Linked DNA regions of Homo sapiens. The protein of the gene in region 5 interacts with the protein of the main gene of each other region in a pairwise test. Each region holds a gene or a part of one and is shown on either strand. Other genes may lie near its edges.

Region 1 (3,500 bases), on a different chromosome or scaffold from region 5:
ACATCTGGGGAAAGGCGGGGGCAAAACTGCTCTGGTTGAGAACTATTAGTCTTTAAAATTACCCTAGACAAGTCTTTTAATTTTTGATAATATAACTTTTGATTAAAACTAAGGGTGGAGGCTGAGGCGAGTGGATCACTTGAGCCCAGGAGTTCAACAGGGCAAAACCTTGTCTGTACAAAAAATACAAAAATTAGCTAGGCGCGGTGCTGCACTCCTATTACAGGGAGGCTGAGGCAGGAGAACTCCTTGAGCCTGGGAGGTGGAGGCTGCACTGAGCTGAGATTATGCCACTGCACTCCAACCTGGGCAGCGGAGGGAAAACTGTTGCAAAAAAAAAGAAAAGGTGCCTCATACCACATACAAAGATTAACTCAGAATGGATCAACACCCTAACTGTGAGAGTTAAAACTATCCTACTTTTTGTTTTGGTAGAGGAGGAGTCTTGCTACGTTGCCAGGGCTGGTCTTGAACTCCTGACTTCAAGTGATCCTCCGGTCTCGGCCTCTAAAACTATAAAACTCTTAAACTGTGGCTGGGCGCAGTAGCTCACATCTGTAATCCCAGCACTTTGGGAGGCCAAGGCAGGTGGATCACCTGAGGTCAGGAGTTTGAGGCCAGCCTGGCCAACATGGGGAAACCCTGTCTCTACGAAAAATGCAAAAATTAGTTGGGCACGGTGGCATGAGCCTGTAATCCCAGCTACTTGGGAGGCTGAGGCAGGAGAATCGCTTGAACCCAGGAGGCGGAGGTTGCAACAAGCTGAGATCATGCTACTGCACTCCAGCCTGGGCGACAGAGCAAGACTCCGTCTCGGGAAAAAAACAAACCAAACTGGTACTTTAAGACAGGGTCTTGATCTGGCTGAGATCCAGGCTGAGGCATCTCTAGTTTTGTCCCTTTCTTCATGCCTAGCAGTATTTGCTCATTCTCTCCTTTTCTCAATTAAGCTAAAAAACGGTTGCCAATTATTTAGTCTAGCAAAAACTTGTAGGTCCTTCTCTGCTATGGCCTTGTCAGTTTTCTTTTCTTTTTTTTTTTTTTGAGACAGAGTCTTGCTCTGTTGCTCAGGTGGAGTGCGGTGGCGCCATCTCGGCTCACTGCAACCTCCGCCTCCTGGGTTCAAGCGATTCTCCCGCCTCAGCCTCCCAAGTAGCTAGGATTACAGGCATGTGCCAACACACCCAGCTAATTTTTGTATTTTTAGTAGAGATGAGGTTTCACCATGTTGGCCAGGCTGATCTCAAACTCTTGATCTCAGGTGATTCGCCCTCCTCAGCCTCCCAAAGTGCTAGGATTACGGGCGTGAGCCACCGCACCTAGCCTTGTTGTCAGTTTTCATTTCTGCCTTTTTTTTCTTTCCTTCAGATAGGGTCTCGCTGTCGCCCAGACTGGAGTGCAGTAGTGCAATCATGGCTCACTGCAGCCTTGACCTCCTGGCTCAAGCGAGCCTCCCATCTCAGCTTCCCGAGCAGCTGGGACTATAGGTGTACGCCACCATGCCAGGTAATAAAAAAAAAGGTTTTTTTTGGTAGAGATGAGGTCTTGCCATGTTGCCCAGGTTAGTCTCAAACTACAGGGCTCAAACAATCCTGCCTCGGCCCCGCAAAATGCTGAGATTACAAGTGTGGGCCCCTATGCCTGGCCAAAAGCCAATACTTTGAAACATCATCTGATAAGGGACTTAACTTTGTATTTTTTCCTTTCCCTCACTTCTTGAATAAAAGGGATTTACCTCTTAAAACTCAGTAATAAAAACATAAGTGGCTCAATGGACAAGGGATCTCGACAGACACTTTCCCAAAGAAGATATCCAACGAGCACATAAAAAGACGCTCGTTCATGAGCCACCTGGGAACTGCAAATCAAAACCGCAACCAGATCCGCTTCCCACCCGCTGGAAGTCTAGGATCAACAAGACAGACAAGCAGCGCTGGCGAGGATGTGGAGAAACTGGAGCTCTCTTATAACTGCCAGTGGGAATGTGAAACACTGCAGCCACTCTGGAAGGCCACCTGGTAGCTAAAAGGTGAGCAGAGTTACTGTGACCAGCGACTCCACTCCTAGCTATGTATCCAGGAGAAATGGAAGAATACATCCACATAGAACTTACACCTGAACATTCGAGGCAGCACTACTCCTGACAGCTAAAAAGCAGAAACCAGCAAATCCATGAATGAATGGATAAGATGATGTGAAGCCAAGCTGCCACGGCAAGGACAGGAGCACCCACACCTGCTCCAGCATGGCCAGGACTCGGAAACACACCTCCCCGAGGGAGACGCCGGACACAGAAGGCCGTGCTGTGTGATTCCAGGGATCCTGCGTGAGGGTGACAGGCCCATCCCAGCTGAGCTGATATCCCCACATGGTGGCGGCCCACAACTATCCTGTCAGCGACAAACCCTACATGCCATTCGTGTCTGCTGTGTGCCTGGGTTTTCAGTTCTCTAAATTGAGATCTTATACCCACCTGGCTGTGTGTCCTTTAAAACAACTCAGCCATCAATTCCTACCAAATGCACTTTAATTTAAGGACCGTTCCACCTTCCAATCTTACGGACAAACCGTATTTATTTAACTGCAGCCTCCAATCTTACGGACAAACTGTATTTATTTAACTGCAGCCTCCAATCTTACGGACAAACCGTATTCAACTGCAGCCTCCAATCTTACGGACAAACCGTATTCAACTGCAGCCTCCAATCTTACGGACAAACCGTATTTATTTAACTGCAGCCTCCAATCTTACGGACAAACCGTATTTATTTAACTGCAGCCTCCAATCTTACGGACAAACCGTATTTATTTAACTGCAGCCTCCAATCTTACGGACAAGCCGTATTTATTTAACTGCAGCCTCCAATCTTACAGACAAACCGTATTCAAGTGCAGCCTCCAATCTTATGGACAAACCATGTTTAACTGCAGCCTCCAATCTTACAGACAAACCGTATTCAAGTGCAGCCTCCAATCTTATGGACAAACCGTATTCAACTGCAGCCTCCAGTCTTACGGACAAACCGTATTTAACTGCAGTCTGGTGTCTAAGGTTCAGGCTTCACATTTCATTATCAAGGGGTTCTGGGCCGGGCGCGGGGGCTCACGCGTGCAATCCCAGCACTTTGGGAGGCCGAGGCAGGTGGATCACTTGAGGTCAGAGTTTGAGACCAGCCTGGCCAACATGGTGAAACCCCGTTGCCACTAAAAGTACAAAAATTAGCTGGATGTGGTGGTACATGCTTGTAATCCCAGCTACTTGGGAGGCTGAGCAGGAGAATCTCTTGAACCTGGGAAGTGGAGGTTGCATTGAACCCAGATTGTGCCACTGCATTCCAGGCTGGGTGACAGAGCGAGACTATCTCAGAAAAAAAAAAGAAGGTCGTTTCAAGCAGTATTTCTGATGATCGAGTATCCAGTTGTTGACTCTACACTTGTATCTCATTAGCGCACTGCATTGTTCACCTCTCCTGCTCATTTTCCTGAGTCTACAGTTTCCA
Region 2 (3,500 bases), on a different chromosome or scaffold from region 5:
CACAAACTATGCACAAGTTTGCTTCCATGTTGTATAGCAAGAGTTTAAATATTTCTGAGTTAATGATGCCAAACTGTGCTCCGATTATATCAGCATATTTACATGATCCTTGAACACCACATATAGATTCCTATACTACACATTTAAGCAAAATCACCTCCTGACTTCACAATGAAAGAGACCTATTGGATTAAAAAGTGGTTTCTAGTAAACCCCAAAGAGATACTGTTACTAAATTACTAAATTTAAAGGCAAAATAGTATTCACTAAACTGATTTTTCTGTCTTATTTTCCTTATTTGGCATAATCATTAACCAACTTCTAGTAAATGGAAGCATTCTCACAATTTAAGTTTTTTTAGGGGGAAACACACAATTTATAAATACTGTCAAGTGAAGAACAGATTCCTGAATACTAAAAGACCCATGCATATCCTTGTATGTAAAAAAAAAAAAAATCCATCATAAAATCATAGACTCAAACACCATCTTTGATTCAGTAGTTCTCCCTCTACTGTGGCTTCTGCTATAGAGTCATTGTTAAAAAGAGTTCTTCATGAAAGATTCTCACATAGCAAAATGCTTTAAGAAAATGTCTAACAAACATTTTTATTGTCTCAATTTGTACACAAACTGACACCTGAAAATCAGAGAGGATAAAGAACTTCAATCTTTAAAAAAGAGAGGTAAGTTATTCCAAAATGCTACCAGTCAATAATTAAAAATACAGTTTGGGGGCAAGAAGTTCTGAAATAACTCAGAGAACTTGCTCAAGATTTTACTTTTGGACCAGTCCTCTTTGGGAGGGAGTATGTGAATAGGTAATGAAAGCCTTATATGAGAGAGTCAATGGAGAGCCATATCAAGGAGCACCTGAAGATATATGGATCAATACAGGGAAAAGAAATCCAAGTAGCCCAGTGCCTGACACTCACTGGGCACTCAATTAATGCACGGTGAATTAACAAATGAATTAATGAAAGAACCATTTGCTACATATAACATTCTTACTTTAAGAAAAAAGAATTTGAAACAGAAGAAAACATACACGCAAGAACACATACAAACTATAAACTATATGATATCCTAAAGGAGATGTAAATATTAAACTGTTTGCTTTGCTGACTGACACTATTAATACCTAAAAGCAGTATGAGAGATCACAAAGAATAAGTACTCATTCATACTTGGAGTGGGCTGCTCATCTTATGGTCTAACTTGCATTTTATGTCATGGCCATGTTGCTTAATCTCCAGCTGTTCTACAGAAGAGCAAAATAAGTTATAAATAAATTATTAAAGAAAAAAAGTAACTCTATCCATGCTGAGGCCTGAGGGAGTTGGGGGAGGAGTCAATTCCTTTTAGTTTATATTTAAAAAGAGAAACTCTTTGGAAAACTGTAATATCTGAAGATTTTGTGGTTTCCAAAAGTGAAGGTGAACGGTGAGAAGTTTTCTTAGTTTAGCTACTGAACCCTAAAAAAATATAACCTCAAAAGTTAATTTCTTAAGCAATTTGGGCACCTGAATTTGATAAGAACTTTTTTTTCCAGACATTCTGTTCTGTCTAACCCAAAGGAAAAATAGCCAATTTTGAGAATCTGTATACAAATAAGGAAAAGTAAAATACAGCGCTTTGCAAAGAAATGGGAGGGATTTCTGATACTCAATTCATGATGCTAAACACTTCAAGTAGATGATTCAAAGGCAGAAATATATAACTGTTCTCATTAGGATTGTTTATGGACTATAAATAAGGAGCAGACTTATGGCCAATGCATTAGAAAAAAACAAGTACAAAGGCACTTCAGAAAATACCTTACTCCAACCTCCCATTTTAGTGTCATTTCTAAAAGGGTTTCATTTCAGCCTTCCTACCTTTCTTCCTTCCTTCCCTTCCTTCCCTCCAACGGGGTCTCACTCTGTCACCCAGGCTGAAGAGCAGTGGGACAATCACGGCTCACTGCAGCCCCAACCTCCTGGGCTCAAACGATCCTACTGCCTCAGCCTCCCAAGTAGCTGGGACTACAAGTGCCTGTCACCAGGCTTGGATAATTTTTTTTGTCTTTTGTAAAGATGGGGTCTTGCTATGTTGTCCAGACTCGTAATGATCTCCTGGGCTCAAGTGATCCTCCCACCTCAGCCTCCCAGAGTGCTGGGATTACAGGCATGAGCCACCACACCAGACCTCTTTTTTCTTTATTATATATTCCTCTAATAAAGTGCTCTGTATGCAGTGAGCATTCAATATTTGCTAAATTAAATTAATGGAAAGTTTTCTAACTACCATGTAGAGTATCTAAATTTACATCATTGGTTCTAGAACTGCTGTCTGAAGCAACACAAATTACACTTATGACAGTTCGTCAAATCTTTGAAGCCCATCCTCAAAATAAGGATGTCAAAAATACATCACACATGTTGACACTCTAATCTCCCAGCCACAGTAGGCATTAGCAATCTGAATGTTATTTTTACTAATCCTTCACAGTTTTAGAATTCTTCTCAACCCAACATTCAAAAACCACTTGCCATTCCAGCCTAAGTTTTCTTGTCCCTAAGTCATGCATTCCAAGTCCCCTCAACCATTGCTCACATGCAATGCTTTCAAATTCCCTATGCATCCTGGTCACAGTGATTTGAATGTACACTAATTTATCGATGATGTACCTAAAACAACTTATTTCATTTCCTTGAACTGATGATAATATTCTAGATACAGTCTATTTAAAAAGTGAAGAATTATTAGCTTCTCCATTTCAGTATTATATTTCTAGCAGTGCAGCCCAAAATTTCAGTAGCTATGATAACAGCCTCTTGTCACACCACTGGCTTATACTGAACTTGCAGTTAATTTAAAACATTCAAGCTTCCTTTCTACAATCTGCTGATAAGTCATCCCCTAAAACCGTGCCCGCAACTCTCTATTCTCTCCTAAATTGATTTTTTTGTACTTAATCATAGTATTTTACATTTAAGTAAATGTAAATGATCCAGATTCTATCATTCAACAGAATGTCTGCAATATCTGCTGGCTTTATGTTTCATATGATAAGCATATCGTCTGTGCCTTCAGACACATTATCAGCCAACATGTCGGTGCTGGATGTATTTTCCCAATGTTGCATAAGAGGAATACCTTCGAGAGTTTGGCCTAGGAATGTGGCCTGGGACTCCGCCAAGCATCTCTCTCCAGCAAAATGACTGCAAATTTCTCGACCTTCAGATTCTACATGATGTAAAAGAAGTTTGTCTGTGTTTAAAAACACATTCAAGAAATAAGTGAACATGTGAAAAGACAGAAAAACTTGTTTTAATTTGGGCATAGTTTCAGTTTTCAAAGGCACATGAAGGCAGAAAGAAAGAATCACAAAATGGAACTACTGATGATAGCAACTCCAAAACCAAGACTGATTAGACTAAATCCCATGTGGCAAAAATTTTATTTAGTAAGTTTCCTTCTCCCTCTCTCCCTTTAGATATATGTGCATACACACACACG
Region 3 (3,500 bases), on a different chromosome or scaffold from region 5:
GGTTGTGAAACACAGCTGCATTTTGGTGAAATACAACAAGTCTCAGCTTGGCAACTGAGGGAGATCCTGGGCAGGTTATTTGATGTCCTCATCTTGTAAGTAAATAAGACTGTATGTCGTGTTTGGCTCAGTGCCATGTGTAGACGGTAAGTATTAAAGGACAGAAGGCAGGCTACCAACAGCACCTGTAGTCACCACAACCAAAAGCACCTGCTCACGCAAGCAAGGGATATGGCTTTCAAGCCTCAACTCACCATACATTTTTTTGTTTTTCCTAGAAACTGAGTCTCTGTCTGTCATTCAGGCTGGAGTGCAATAGCGTGATCATAGCTCACTGAACCTTGAAGTCTTGGGCTTAAGCAATCTTCCTACCTTAGCCTCCTGAGTAGCTGGGACTATAGATGCAAGCCATCATGCCTGGCTAATTAAAAAAACTGTTTTGGTAGAGATAGTGTCTTGCTATGTTGCCAAGGCTGGCCTCAAACTCCTGGCCTCAAGTGATCTTCTCCCGCTTCAGCCTCCCAAAGTGCTGGGATTACAGGTATGAGCTACTGTGCCCAGCCTCACCATGCAATTTTATATTTAATCTAATGTACATTTGAATTATAAATTCTTTTCTACATCAGGCAAATAACAATGAGACTTACATTTTGGCAAGTTATCTTGAAGAAGATGAGACACTCTTTCTGGTCTTTGCTTTTGCATGATGTCCTGGAAGTTCTTCAGCAGTCCACTGGGATCCCCTCCATCGGTTTTCACACTAACCACACTGGGGCCTGCTGAGGTTTCAGCAACCTCTGGAACAAAAGTAACAAGAAACAAATGGGACCAACTTTCTATTCTGAGTTCACAATATCTTCCAAACATATTGTCAAAAATGGCTTATGGCCTAGTTCACAAAAAAGGCCAAGCATAACCAAAGTTAGTTATAACTGAGTGTACAAAGCATCTCTTCTATTTTAGTTACTGTAATGGCAGACTCTTGGTGTTGTTTTCAGAGCTACTGGCCAGCTTTAATGAACAATAAAGTCCAAAGCTTTCTTGCTGGTTGGCATGTCTTATTCACTCCACTACATCCCCACCCCAATCCTAATCTCAATTTTCTGTTTTTTTTTTTTTGAGACAGAGTCCCATTCTGTCACCCAGGCTGGAGAGCAGTGGCACGATCTCGACTCATTGCAACCTCTGCCTCCTGGGTTCAAGCGATCCTCCCTCCTCAACCTCCTGAGAAGATGGGACTATAGGCATGCGCCATCATGCCCAGCTAATCTTTGTATTTTTGGTAGGGATGGGGTTTCCCCATGTTGGCCTGGCTGGTCTTAAACTCCTGGCCTCAAGTGATCCACCTGCCTCGGCCTCCCAAAGTGCTGGGATTATAGGTGTGAGCCACTGGGCCTGGTCCTAATCTCAATTTTCTTCATAGAAAACAATTTTGGCCATATGCATAATTTCTGCTGGTTAGGCTTTTGGGGAGCCTTGAGTTCTCTGCAGATATAGCCACACCTATATATTGTGGAGTTAAGGTTGCAATTCAATGACCATCAGTAAGACACACGGCTTGGGAGCCCTAGGACCAGCACTTACTGCAGTAAAACCATTATTTTCTATCTTTATCCTAGCAGATGATGGGAAAGACCAAAGGGACAAAAGGCAGCTGGTGGCAGCTCAAGACTGCAGGTTATTTTCAGAAATTAAGTAGTAACTATAAAAGCTGGTCACATCCCACACACGCACCAGAAAGAAAGTCCCACTTTCGCAATACAGTCCCTTGACTGTCTATCTTGAAGACCTTCCTCTCTGGCCCTAAAAGAGGAAGGTGTTTCCATAAATACTGCCCTAATAATAGCTCATACACAAATCTGAGGGCCCAAAAGAACTAAAAGGACCCCTTCACTACCACTAATGGTTCACAACTCATCTCTTACCTTTCCTCACGGCATTCATTTCCTGCACATCCTCCTGAAGCTCAAGACTGGCTTTGCAGAAGACACTGCTGCCTCTCTGATTCATCTGTGCTGCCAGGAAAGGGCATTTGCTTGCAGTGCCCTGGCTTGTGGCAGGCAAGGGGTGTCCAGACGGAAGCTGTGTGCCATCTGGACTCTGCTGGGATCCATCAGGAGTCTGTTGGACCTTGGCCTTAGCAGTTTTGTCTTCTGAGGGAGGAAATGGAAAAAGTGAAGCATCAGATCTGGTTGCACAGTATGTAAGAAAACCACTTATTTCTTTCTTTTATTGCCTCAAAGATAAACTTAATACTTACTGTACCCCACCATCCAGACACAAGTGTTTTTTTTGTTTTGTTTTGTTTTTAAGATGGAGTCTTGCTCTGTACCCCAGGTTGGAGTACAGTGGCACAATCTTGGCTCACTACAACCTCCACCTCCTGGGTTCAAGTGATTCTCATGCCTCAGCCTCCCAAGTAGCTGGGGTTACAGGTGTGTGCCACCATGCCTGGCTAATTTGTGTATTTTTAGTAGAGATGGGGTTTCACCATGTTGTCCAGGCTGGTCTTGAACTCCTGACCTCAGGTTATCCACCTGCCTTGGCCTCCCAAAGTGCTGGGATTATAGGCGTGAACCACTGCACTCAGCCACAAGCTTATTTTTATTAGGTTCTGCTAATCTCTCTAGTTTTTCATCTGCTTCACAGGAAACAATGCGTCTATGAAGAGTTAACTGGCACATTCCAGTTGCCTCTTAAACCCACAGTATTTCTCGTCATAAATCCAAAAAAAGTACCATTTTCTAGTTTTAGACAACCCGGAATCCTTGAGTTGGATCATTTCCAGTAATTTCTACCCCAACTACACTCAGCTTATTTTATGAGAGGACACACTCTGTAAGGTAACGGGAAATATTCACACACATTTTTTTCTCTGCTAACATTTTCCTTTCCTTTTTTTTTGAAACAGGATCTCACTCTGTCAACCAGGCTAGAGTGCATGGTGCAATCATAGCTAACTGCAGCTTTGACCTCCAGGCTCAAGTGATCCTCTCACCTTAGCTCTCCAAGTAGCTTGGACTGCAGGTGTTCTACTGCGCCCAGCTAATTCTTTTTATTTTTTATTTTTTGTAGAGACGGAGTCTTGTTATGTGGCCCTAGCTTCTATCAAACTCCTAGGCTCAAGCAGTCCTCCCGCCTCAGCCTCCCAAAGTGCTGGAATTACAGGCATGAGCCACCACATCCTGTCTCTGCTGACATTTTCTAAACAGATTCTTGACAAAGAGGCTTGCTGTTGCTTAACATAAAAGCTATTGGTTTTCATCTAAACAACAGAAATTAGACTAAGACTTAGGTCTTTAGATTGCTAATAAAGTAAGAAAAAATAGGGGTATATCACATTCACATACCTCATCTACTTTCTCATCTAAATTCATCAAAGTCTGCTGACTAAACACCGTTGGCTGGTAATTATCCTTCTAGCTACAGTGACTTCCCTCTCCCCTTGAGCAAATTCATTCACCTTCTTTCTAGAAAAGTCTTTCTTCATCATTCTGGAA
Region 4 (3,500 bases), on a different chromosome or scaffold from region 5:
GGAGTTTTCTAGACTACAAGGCTGGAAGGAATTATTTATCTTCTACCAGAAGAATAAGATTATGTTTTTACGATTGTTGCATAATAGTAATTATTGTGGTAGTTACCTTCTACATCAATGTTCTGGTCAGGAATCTCCAGTTCAATAATATTCATGCTGGATTCTTTCCAAGAACCACTGAACATACTAGAAAAGTAGCCAGACTTAAACAAAAAAAAAAGTCAACGATTATCAAGTACTTTCTGTGTCTTCCAAATTATTTGCCCATTTCTAATTCTAAGCAACTATTCTATCCATTAACTAAACTCATCCATTCTATTACTTCAACAGAAAAAGAACTGCCAAATATGTCCACAGGAGAAAAGAAATTAAGATAAGGACACTATTAGGTGTATCAAAATATACTTTTGGTTTAGTACTATTTTTGACAAAAAACTAAAATTCTTATATTACTATCTAAATTGAATTCATGTATATTATTTGAACCTGGTTAGCTTTTTACTCAAACTGTTGAATCTTTACTGTACACCTGAATGGCTATAAAGGACCAAACCAGTCCCAAGTCAGCAAAAACAGGATGATCGCCAAAGAAACCAGGGAAAATCCAAAATTTAGTTTAATGAGAAATGTCCAGAATGGACCTGAATTCTTGGAAAGGTACAGAATGAAGTCTTTAGGTATCTGCCAGATAGCACTCCTCATAATTAGAATTACTTTGAAATGGATCAAATATTAACTAATTTATTTAAAAATGTTACTGAGTACTTAGTATGTAGAAGGCACTGTGAATATAGCAATAAACAAAATCGATATTGTTTCTGTCCTCAGGGGGCTTATATTTTAGCATGTGGCTTGAATTATAATACATCTTCCACGAGGGGTAAAGTTTTAACAGAGGTATTCTTACCCTCAAGTTCACAAAACTGCTTTCAGATATTAAAAAGAAACAACATGAATCATACCCTGAAGTTAAAAGCAATATTCTGATATAGTATCTGGGCAACATACTTCAAGCCAAAATAAATTTGTTTCAAAAACACATTTTAAAACATGATTAAAATGTTAGAGAAGGCAATTCATTTTCAAATACTTTTACTGAAAAATTTTATACTATGCTGTCTTACCAGTAATTATTCTCAAATGGTAAAGAGGAAAAATGTAAGTTCCAAAGGATAAAAACTGTTGTTTTATTTCTAGTGCCTCAAACAATACCTAGCTTATAGATTTGATGAAAGAAAATGAATAAAATATTTGGGCCATTAGAGCAACATTGTATTCTATTTTGAAAGCTCCGATTTTTTTTTTTTTTTTTTTTTTTTTTTTGAGACAGAGTCTCGCTCTGTTGCCCAGGCTGGAATGCAGTGGTACGATCTCAGCTCACTGCAACCTCCATCTCCCAGGTTCAAGCAATTCTCCTGCCTCAGCCTCCTGAGTAGCTGGGATTACAGGTGCCCAACACCACGTCAGCTATGAAAGTTCTGAATTTTTAAAGTGGGGTGGCAGGTAGTAATATTTTCAGTACAGAAATCTACTTAGTCTATATACTTTTTGGTGTTGTCTTTACCTGCATTTTTCAGGAGAGAACTTTCTATTCACACTCAATGTGAACTACAAAGCAACATTTCAGATGAGTTTATCCAATTTAAATAACCATAAGCAAAATAAACACTACAATCTTAACTTTAATGTTAAATATTTTTTCCCCAACTTTTCCCCTTTTATCAACAGAAGGCACCGAAAAAAGCATTTTATGAAGTAATGACAAATACGTAGTATTAGGCTAGTCTGATACTGAAATATCAAAATCTCTTTCTAGACCAAACTTAGTTTTCACTAACAATGTTTGCCATTTTTCTTACAGACTGATCAAATGAGAGGATTTAACCACTATGGTGTTCATGCAAAAGATTACTGTGAAGTGCAATGAGGAAGAACATGACTTAAGAGTTTCAGTGACTACCCTGTTACTCAAATAGAAAAAATACTTACTTGACATAAATATATTTTGTGTAAGCTCCATTCTTCTCCTAGAGCACAAATCTTAATGTCACTGTTTTCACCATTCAAAAATAATGTTTGATAAATATATTTAGATGTACTCTTTAATTTTTTCCTGTTAAAAGAAATGAAAAAGTCACATATTTATATAAAACTGAATGTTTTACTGATTTTGCATATATTTCTAAATACTCCTTTTATTCAATTTCTATTAAATAGAGTCAACTTACCTATTGTGTAAAAGGATAGGGAGATAGTATATATTCAAATTTTCTTGTGTCTAGAAGAGTACATAAGAAACTAATAATAGTGGTTATCTCTGGGGTCCTCTATGCACGGGAGAGATAGTGGAGAAAGGGGGGCAGCATGGGAGGCAGACTTTTCACTACACATGTTTTAGCAATTTTGGACTAATTTAATTACCCATTCAATAGATTAAGAAGTTAGCATGTTGATTTTTTGCTTATTTCCTTATTTAGAAACCAGCACTATGAAGGAGCTCAAATAGCGCAATAATCTGCAAGTAGGAAATGGAGAACAAGAGTAAACATTTCACCTACCCAAGTAATTTTAAAATAATTTACATTTAATCTTATTTTGGTACCAACCTATTCTTAAACTACTTAAAATGTTTTCCAGCCACTGGACAAACGGTTTGCAACCTTAGATCAAAGGTTTTCTTTTCTTTTCCTATTTGTTTTTTAAAATTATTTATTTATTTATTTTAGATGAAAGGTTTTTAAAACTGCTCAAAGGAGAAGTCTTAGGGGCCACCAAGGAGAGCTAAGGAGTGAACTGTGAGCATCCCATCTAACTTCAACCAGAGCAGCATCACCTATTCTATCTGTAAACATACTGGATTTCTGCACAGATTTAATTTAAAGGAAGACTTGACTAAAAAAATAAAGTTTGAAAATCATTGCTCAAAATGATCCAGTAACTAAGAAAAGGCCTTAGGCAGAGGCTGATCAATATCTTAAATTCCTGACCAATTCTGAAAGCTTTCCTAGCACATAAAACCTTCAATCTCTTTTTAAAAATGAAGTAATTGTTTCAGATGACATCCTGAATTGGCGAATTTAACACCTGTGTACTTAACACCTCTTCCTAGCCGACAATAAAAACAGCACATGTCTTAGTGGTAACAGACTTGGGTTTGAGTCCCAGCTGCTCAGTTATCACAGCTGTAAAAAGAGGACATTAATAGTATCCACTTCACTCGTTATGATGCGAAATCAAGAGACAATGTAGTTTCCAGTTCCTGACGGCAGAATGTACACATGTTGGCTTCCCATCCCTCCCCAAATTACATTAAAGATTAAGAGTACAAAAAAGGAATAAGTCCACACCAGGAAAAGGTGAGGGTAGGCTCATCACTTGATGAGAGATTTATACAGATCTGAAAGTTAGAAAACAAATTCAAATGAAAAAGAACAGTGACAGCCACAGCCAAAAAATACATTATGGAGGACTAGGATGGAGGCTAAGCTTATCTGCCCATC
Region 5 (3,500 bases):
TGCTGTGTGTATTCAGCCCTAAAACATGGGCGAGTGCCCGCTTGCAGTTCAAATTCTCAGAGGAAGTTCCCTGTACTCCACCCAGTGCCAAGTTTAGTTTGTGCAAATTTCCTTAATGTCCCCTCCTGTACAACAGGCTTATTTGGTGTTAACCCTCATATCGGGGGTCTAACTCTTTGCTTTTCCAGCTTTTGTGCTGGAATATCCCATTAAACTGTCCATGTTGGGTATTTTTTCTTTGTTAGTAAACATTTGTTGCATATTGTTGATAGCATTTTAGATTTGAAGAAATAACTGACAAAATCAATATCATCTGTTTCATCATTACAAATAGACTCATAGCTCTTTAATTTTTCCATTTAACACTTTAATTTTCCATAGGCCTAGATTTTCAAGAAGTCCAATATCTCTCACTTGAAGTGTCTTTTCCCTGGAGTAGATTGGGAGATTTGAGGGATATCTGTCCAAAGATGAGACAGTCTGTTTCTAGTTTCCCATCCAGCCTGATGGGGCGTCTACAGTTTTTACCACAAGGTGTCGCTGTTGAACAGATTCTGGTGCAGTCTAGTGCATAGCTGTCCACTTCTAGAGTGATCACTTGCTGGGCCAAGTTCCTCTCCTTAAGTGGTGTCTCACATTAAGGTTCCCAAATTACAGACTCATTAATTCACCCTAATAAGCTCATCCAGGCAGTTTAGGTCTTCAGGGGCTTCCAGCCTCCAACACACATTGGGCCAAAACCAGCCTGTACCACCAGCTCCAAGCCCTGTGTTGAATCTAGGTCATTGGTCCAGATGCCCCTTCATTCTGGGCCTGTGGTGTCCTTTCCAGACAGCAGACCTCAGTTAAGGGCATCCCAGTCCATCAGAGAAGTTCCAGGATCACAGACCCTCAAAAGGGGCAGTGTTGAGGATTCAGTCTGTTTTCTGCCCAGAGGCCCCATTAAGTATGTTGTATCACCTCCTCCCCAGGCTGTTTCTACATAACCCAGGGAAGCCATTCAGGGAACAGCTGCCTTATGAATGAAAATCCACCCCTAGACAATGTGCTATGCCATCCCAGCCAGAAAAATTGTTGGCAACTTCCCTTGCCAAAAATGCCTGGTATCACAGAATCTTATGCCATTATTGCTTTCTGGTCCAGGGTCCTCCCACCCTTCAAAAGGATGGCATACAACTCCCACCGTGTGTGTGTGTGTGTGTGTGTGTGTGTGTGTGTGTGTGTGTGTAGAGGCTGTTCTTGAGGGCAATAGGTGAGCTTTTGTTTTGCTTTGTCAGGTCTACATGGTAAGGGGGAAGGGCTAGAATACTAAGATAGTATTAGGATAATGGATGGAAATATTTTAAAGCAATTCCAAGGTGGAAGGAACAGAGAGAAAAGCCTTGGAGCAGCTGGAGAGAACTGTCTTCAAGGAAATGGACTAAGTTTTGTCTAGAATGTGTGAGGTAAACTTCTTCTCCAGCTTCCCACAAAGACACTGGTGGGGTGGACACTGCTCTGGACGGTTTTGGCAGTTGGTTTTGTGTTTTGGAGATGAAGTGGCCCTGGCATCAAGAGGACGTGGGACACAAGCAGAGGCTTCCAAGGGGTCCCAGGAGCACCTCTGTCCAATACAGATGGAGAAATTGAGGACCAGAGGAGGGGCTTGTCCAAAGTCACCCAGCGAGTTAGAGCCCCCAGTGGCTTTTCCCATTAAAAATGAACCCCAGGCCAGGGGTGGTGGCTCACACTTGTAACCCCAGTGTTTTGGGAAGCTGAGGCAGGAAGATCATTTAAGGTCAGAAGTTAGAGACCAGCCTGGGCAACAGAGAGACCCTGTCTCTACTAAAAAATTAAAAATTAGCCTGGTGTGGTGGTGTGCACCTGTAATCCCAGCTACTTGGGAGGCTGAGGTGGGAGGATTGCTTGTGCCCAGGAGTTTGAGGCTGCAGTGAGACATAATTGAGCCACTGCACTTCAGTCTGGGTGACAGAGCAAGACTGTCTCAAATAACAAAAAAGAAAAGGAAAAATAAAAAAAAAGAACCCCAAACAGCCCACTGTGAGCCATGGTGACCCCAAATCTCCAGCGTCCCTGCGGGGTCCCAGGCCGGCTCAGTGCAGGTATTCTCGCACAGTGAGCTCCTTCAGGGTGATGCCTCGGGGCGTGGGCCTCCGGAGCTGGCTCTCCTCCAGCCTCTCCTGCAGAGTCACGAAGTCCTTGCCCAGCGCGTAGGCCAGGCGGACCATGGCGTCCAGCAGAGGCGCATAGTAGCGATGGCCCTCCCGGGCCTGCAGGCGCTGCAGGGCCCTCTCTCCGGCCGCGAAGGCCTCGGCGGGGCGGTCGAGGTCGCGGTGGCACAGCAGCACGGCGCACAGGGCCGGGACGGCGGCCGCAGGGCAGTGGGCGGTGAGCTTCTCCTGCAGCGGCAGCACGCGCAGCAGCAGCTCCAGGGCGCGCGGGTACTGGCCGGCCCGCAGGCAGCCGAAAGCCTCGCGCAGCTCCGGCCGCGTGAGGAAGTCCAGGAACTCCCGGGAGCGGCGCACGCAGCGGATGGCGTAGAGCAGGCCCAGGTACTCCTGCAGGGCGCGCCGACGCTCACAGATCATCTCCTCAGCGAAGTTCCCAGTCAGGTGCTTCCTGGGAAACTCCACGTCTTCGATCTCCTCCCTGAACGTCTTCAGCAGCGCTTTCTGGAGCTTCGCGAAGTCGGAATAGCGCCGTTCCAGGACGGCCTTGTTGTTGTCAAAGCTCCCAGTCTGGATGACGATGATTTGGTACACCTAGGGCGCAACCAGAGAGAGCTGTGGCCACCTCCCGGCGGGGGCTGCGGCGGACGGAGCACACCCAGAGTAAAGTTAACCAGGCCGGTGTAAAGCATGCCCTGAAAACGGGCGATCCTTATATGCAATTGTTTGTTTGTTTGTTTGTTTGTTTGTTTATTTATTTATTTATTTATTTATTTATTTATTTTTAGAGACAGGGTCTCGCACTGTTACCCAGGCTGGAGTACAGTGATGCGATCATACCTCACTGCAACCTTGAACTTATGGGCTCAATTGACCTGCCCACCTGAGCCTCCTGAGTAGCTGGGACTACAGGCACACCCACTACCTGGCAGATTTTTTGATTTTTTTTAAAAGATGGGGTCTGGCTGTGTTGCCCAGGCTGGTCTCCAACTCCTGGGCTCAAGCGATCCTCCTACCTGGGCCTCCCAAAGTGCTGGGATTACAGGCATGAGCCACTGCACCTGGCCCAATTCTGTTTTAAATTGCTATTGGCATCAGCTGAGTCAACCCTGGAACAACAACACAGCAAGGTGGGGACATCTGGGAGGAGAAAGGGCAGAGGGTCCTGCCCTGCAGGCTGCTGGGGTCCCTCTTGGCTTTACTTGCTAAAACTGGGCCTCTGTTTTCTGAACTGAGATGCTGTGTTTTCCAAATGTTTCACACTTGGGAATTAGTTTTACGTACAATATAACATCATTTAGGTACACTGGTGATGCCGTTATATGGTAAGAA
Region 6 (3,500 bases), on a different chromosome or scaffold from region 5:
TCCTGCCTCAGCCTCCCGAGTGGCTGGGATTATAGGCGCACGCCACCATGCCCAGCTAATTTTTGTATTTTTAGTAGAGATGGGGTTTCACCATGTTGGCCAGGCTGGTCTTGAACTCCTGGCCTCAATGATTCACCGGCCTTGGCCTCCTAAAGTGCTGGGATTACAGGCATGAGCCACCGCACCTGGCCCCCTACTTCTCTTATTGTTCCCACAGTCCCTGGGCGTGAAAGAATGCCCCAAGCCCACATGATTTCTTCTCACAGCACAGCAACTTACCTATCACCTTCACCCTCAGAACCTCACTTAACATTTTGGCATGGGAATGGCAATTATCTGCAACACACTGGTATTCGACGTCTTCAGTGGGGTTGTCTTTGAATACCGCAGGATCATTTGAGTTCTTGGTACTATTCTCCAAAACTTTACTTGTTTTTAAAAGTTGGTAAGAAATAGGCAAAGTTCCACTGATCGATTCGCAACGGACTTCGATGGTCTGTCCTTTTATGACCTCAAACTGGGCATCATAAGAAATCCTGGGCTGGGAGAGCATTTCTAGAACAGAGGGAGAAACAATCCAAAAGGCACTGAAGGTAAAAGCAAAGCATCCAGCACAAGAGGTTCCTCCTCCAAAGCCTGAGCTTTGCTTTCTATCCCTGCTGTAATTTCAAATGCCTGCCTGCCTTATTTACCTTTATAGGACACCTATGAGACTGACAGGCTGTGTGTGTGTGTGTGTGTGTGTGTGTGTGTGTGTGGTGAGAAGGGAAAGGGAAAGAGAAGTACAATAAGCAAAACAGAGAATGACAGAAATTCAAGGAAAACATTACATCCCCAGAAATACATGTTCATATTTTACCATATCTCACACGCACATGCACACATAATATACTTTTCTTGTGTTGAGCAAAGACACAGAAAACATAGAAAAAGTACAACAAGTAGCCAACAAAATGTGTGTGTGTGTGTGTGTGTGTGTGTGTGTATTTGAGACAGGGTCTCACTCTATTACCCAGGCTGGAGTGCACTGGTGCGATGACAGCTCACTACAACCTCCCAGAATCAAGCAATCCTCCTACCTCAGCCTCCCGAGTAGCTGGGACTATAGGTGCACACCACACCTGGCTAATTCTTTATTTTTTGTAGAGACAGGGTCTCACTATGTGCTCAGGCTGGTCTTGAACTCCTGGACTCAAGTGATCCTCCCACATCAGCTGCCCAAAGTGCTGGGATTATAAGTATGAGCCACCACACCTGGCTGAGCATATATGTGTGTGTGTGTGTGTGTGTGTGTGTGTGTTCTGAGACCGAGTCTTGCTCTGTCACCCAGGCTGGAGTGCAATGGCGCAATCTCAGCTGACCACAACCTCCACCTCCTGGGTCCAAGGGATTCTCCTGCCTCAGCCTCCCGAGTAGCTGGGATTACAGGCATGTGCCACCACACCCGGCTAACTTTTGTATTTTTAGTAGAGAGGGGGTTTCACCATGTTGGCCAGGCTGGCCTCAAACTCCTGACCTCAGGTGATCCACCCACCTTGGCCTGCCAAATTGTTGGGATTACAGGTGTGAGCCACCAGGTCCAGCCAATATATATGTTTTTAAATTATTCTCAGCCAGTCACGGTGGCTCATGCCTGTAATCCCAGCACTTTGGGAGGCCGAGGTGGGCAGATCACCTGAGGTCAGGACTTTAAGACCAGCCTGACCAATGTAGAGAAACCCCGTCTCTACTGAAAATACAAAATTAGCTGGGCAAGGTGGCACATGCCTGTAATCCTAGCTACTCGGGAGGCTGAGGCAGGAGAATCGCTTGAACCCGGGAGGCAGAGGTTGCAGTGAGCCGAGATCATGTCATTGCACTCCAGCCTGGGTAACAAGAGCAAAACTCCATCTCAAAAAAAAAAAAAAAAAAAAAAGATAAAAAAAGTCTTCTTAGTGCTTCAGCCTCTTAACAGATAAGAATTATATTAGGTCATTATTTAGGCATTAGTTTATTTAAACCTTATACAATGAGATTTCCTCCTCCCAAGAACAAAAAATAAAATAAAACGTTATAACACACATTTGTCTCTTGCATTCCTGCCTTTTGAGTTAGGTGGTTAGAGCATTAAAAATAGGCTAAAATCCTGGTTCAGTTGAAGCTATAATAAAATCTTAGCTGGATAAAACACAGCCACAGGTTAAATGAAAGGATCGTGACTGAATAATATAGTGACAGTGACAACTTGACTGGAGTTCTATAATCAACCAGAATCTCGCCACCCAAAGTGTGGTCCAGAGACCAACAGCATCCACATCACCAAAATGCTAGTTAGAGATGCAGAACCTGGCCCCATCTGGGCCTAAAATACTGAATCATAACCTGTATTTTAACCAGGTCTTGCATGCACATTCAGGCCTGAGAAGCCCAGCTCCTGGTGGTCAAATACCTACATTCTGTCCACTGGAAGTCTTACCCTTTTGGGTTAGCCAGGATACAGATTTAAAAAATGGAATTTTGATATTCTTGGCCGGGTGTGGTGGCTCAGGCCTGTAATCCCAGGACTTTGGGAGGCTGAGGCAGGCAGATCACGAGGTCAGGAGATGGAGACCATCCTGGCTAACACGGTGAAACCCCATCTCTACTAAAAATACAAAAAAATATTATCCGGGCGTGGTTGCGGGTGCCTGTAGTCCCAGCTACTTGGGAGGCTGAGGCAGGAGAATGGCGTGAACCCAGGAGGCGGAGCTTGCAGTGAGCCCAGATTGTGCCACTGCACTCCAGCCTGGGTGACAGAGCGAGACTGCATCTCAAAAAAATAAATAAATAAATAAATAAAAGTAATAAAAATAAAAATACAAAAATTAGGCAGACATGGTGGTGGGCACCTGTAATCCCAGCTACTTGGGAGGCTGAGGCAGGAGATCACTTGAACCTAGGAGGCAGAGGTTGCAGTGAGCTATCGTGCCACTGCACTCTAGCCTGGGCGACACGTCTCAAAAAAAAAAAAAAGAAAAGTTTAACATTGACTAAGTAGTGTTTCCTTCCTGAACTTTTGGGTGGGTACTTGCTCCAGGAGGCAGAATCTTGCCAGAATCTTAGCAAGTCAGAGGCCACATCATCATCAGTGAATCAGTGTTCTGAGCAGGAATACCTCCTTGTTTCTTTGGCCTTTGATTTCGCACTTCTCTCCCTCTAGTTCTTACCCTGCCTGAGTCTGCTCAGACCGGAGAGGGCGGCAGCTGCAGATAAATTTCCTTTCTCCCATTCAACCCTGGATGTCCTCTGAGTCAGCAACAATATACTCACCACATACGACTATCTGGACTGTGTTGCTTTTCTTGACCACTTTGTCAATACCTGCAGTGCAGATATACGTCCCACTGTCCGACTTTGAGGCTATCTTGGTGAAATCTTGAGTCTGTGACACAATCGTATCTTCCTTCTGGATGGTGAAGTTGGCTGGAGGTGCTCCTGGGATGGAGCAGGACAGGTTCAGTCTTTCACCTTGGTCCAGATGT

The links.
Region 1: the proteins of SNX20 (region 5) and TACC3 interact in binary tests that used the Homo sapiens proteins (3 or more experiments, as listed by UniProt).
Region 2: the proteins of SNX20 (region 5) and BDNF interact in binary tests that used the Homo sapiens proteins (3 or more experiments, as listed by UniProt).
Region 3: the proteins of SNX20 (region 5) and ALAS1 interact in a two-hybrid assay, tested with the Homo sapiens proteins (one large-scale study listed by BioGRID and IntAct).
Region 4: the proteins of SNX20 (region 5) and GMCL1 interact in a two-hybrid assay, tested with the Homo sapiens proteins (one large-scale study listed by BioGRID).
Region 6: the proteins of SNX20 (region 5) and PECAM1 interact in binary tests that used the Homo sapiens proteins (3 or more experiments, as listed by UniProt).

Annotation. Positions count from the first base shown.
Region 1 is NC_000004.12:1,731,521-1,735,020, reverse strand, and holds part of TACC3 (transforming acidic coiled-coil-containing protein 3), read right to left. Parts: intron 1-3,500. UniProt on the Homo sapiens protein: Plays a role in the microtubule-dependent coupling of the nucleus and the centrosome. Involved in the processes that regulate centrosome-mediated interkinetic nuclear migration (INM) of neural progenitors.
Region 2 is NC_000011.10:27,690,456-27,693,955, forward strand, and holds part of BDNF (neurotrophic factor BDNF precursor form isoform a preproprotein), read right to left. Parts: intron 686-3,500; exon of another isoform or gene 651-685; intron 1-650. UniProt on the Homo sapiens protein: Important signaling molecule that activates signaling cascades downstream of NTRK2. During development, promotes the survival and differentiation of selected neuronal populations of the peripheral and central nervous systems.
Region 3 is NC_000003.12:52,201,160-52,204,659, reverse strand, and holds part of ALAS1 (5-aminolevulinate synthase, non-specific, mitochondrial isoform 1 precursor), read right to left. Parts: intron 2,154-3,500; coding exon 1,926-2,153; intron 798-1,925; coding exon 648-797; intron 1-647.
Region 4 is NC_000002.12:69,836,160-69,839,659, reverse strand, and holds part of GMCL1 (germ cell-less protein-like 1), read right to left. Parts: intron 2,114-3,500; coding exon 1,990-2,113; intron 204-1,989; coding exon 107-203; intron 1-106. UniProt on the Homo sapiens protein: Possible function in spermatogenesis. Enhances the degradation of MDM2 and increases the amount of p53 probably by modulating the nucleocytoplasmic transport.
Region 5 is NC_000016.10:50,671,313-50,674,812, forward strand, and holds the end of SNX20 (sorting nexin-20), read right to left. Parts: intron 2,763-3,500; coding exon 2,094-2,762; 3' UTR 317-2,093; downstream 1-316.
Region 6 is NC_000017.11:64,359,861-64,363,360, forward strand, and holds part of PECAM1 (platelet endothelial cell adhesion molecule precursor), read right to left. Parts: coding exon 3,289-3,500; intron 556-3,288; coding exon 280-555; intron 1-279. UniProt on the Homo sapiens protein: Cell adhesion molecule which is required for leukocyte transendothelial migration (TEM) under most inflammatory conditions.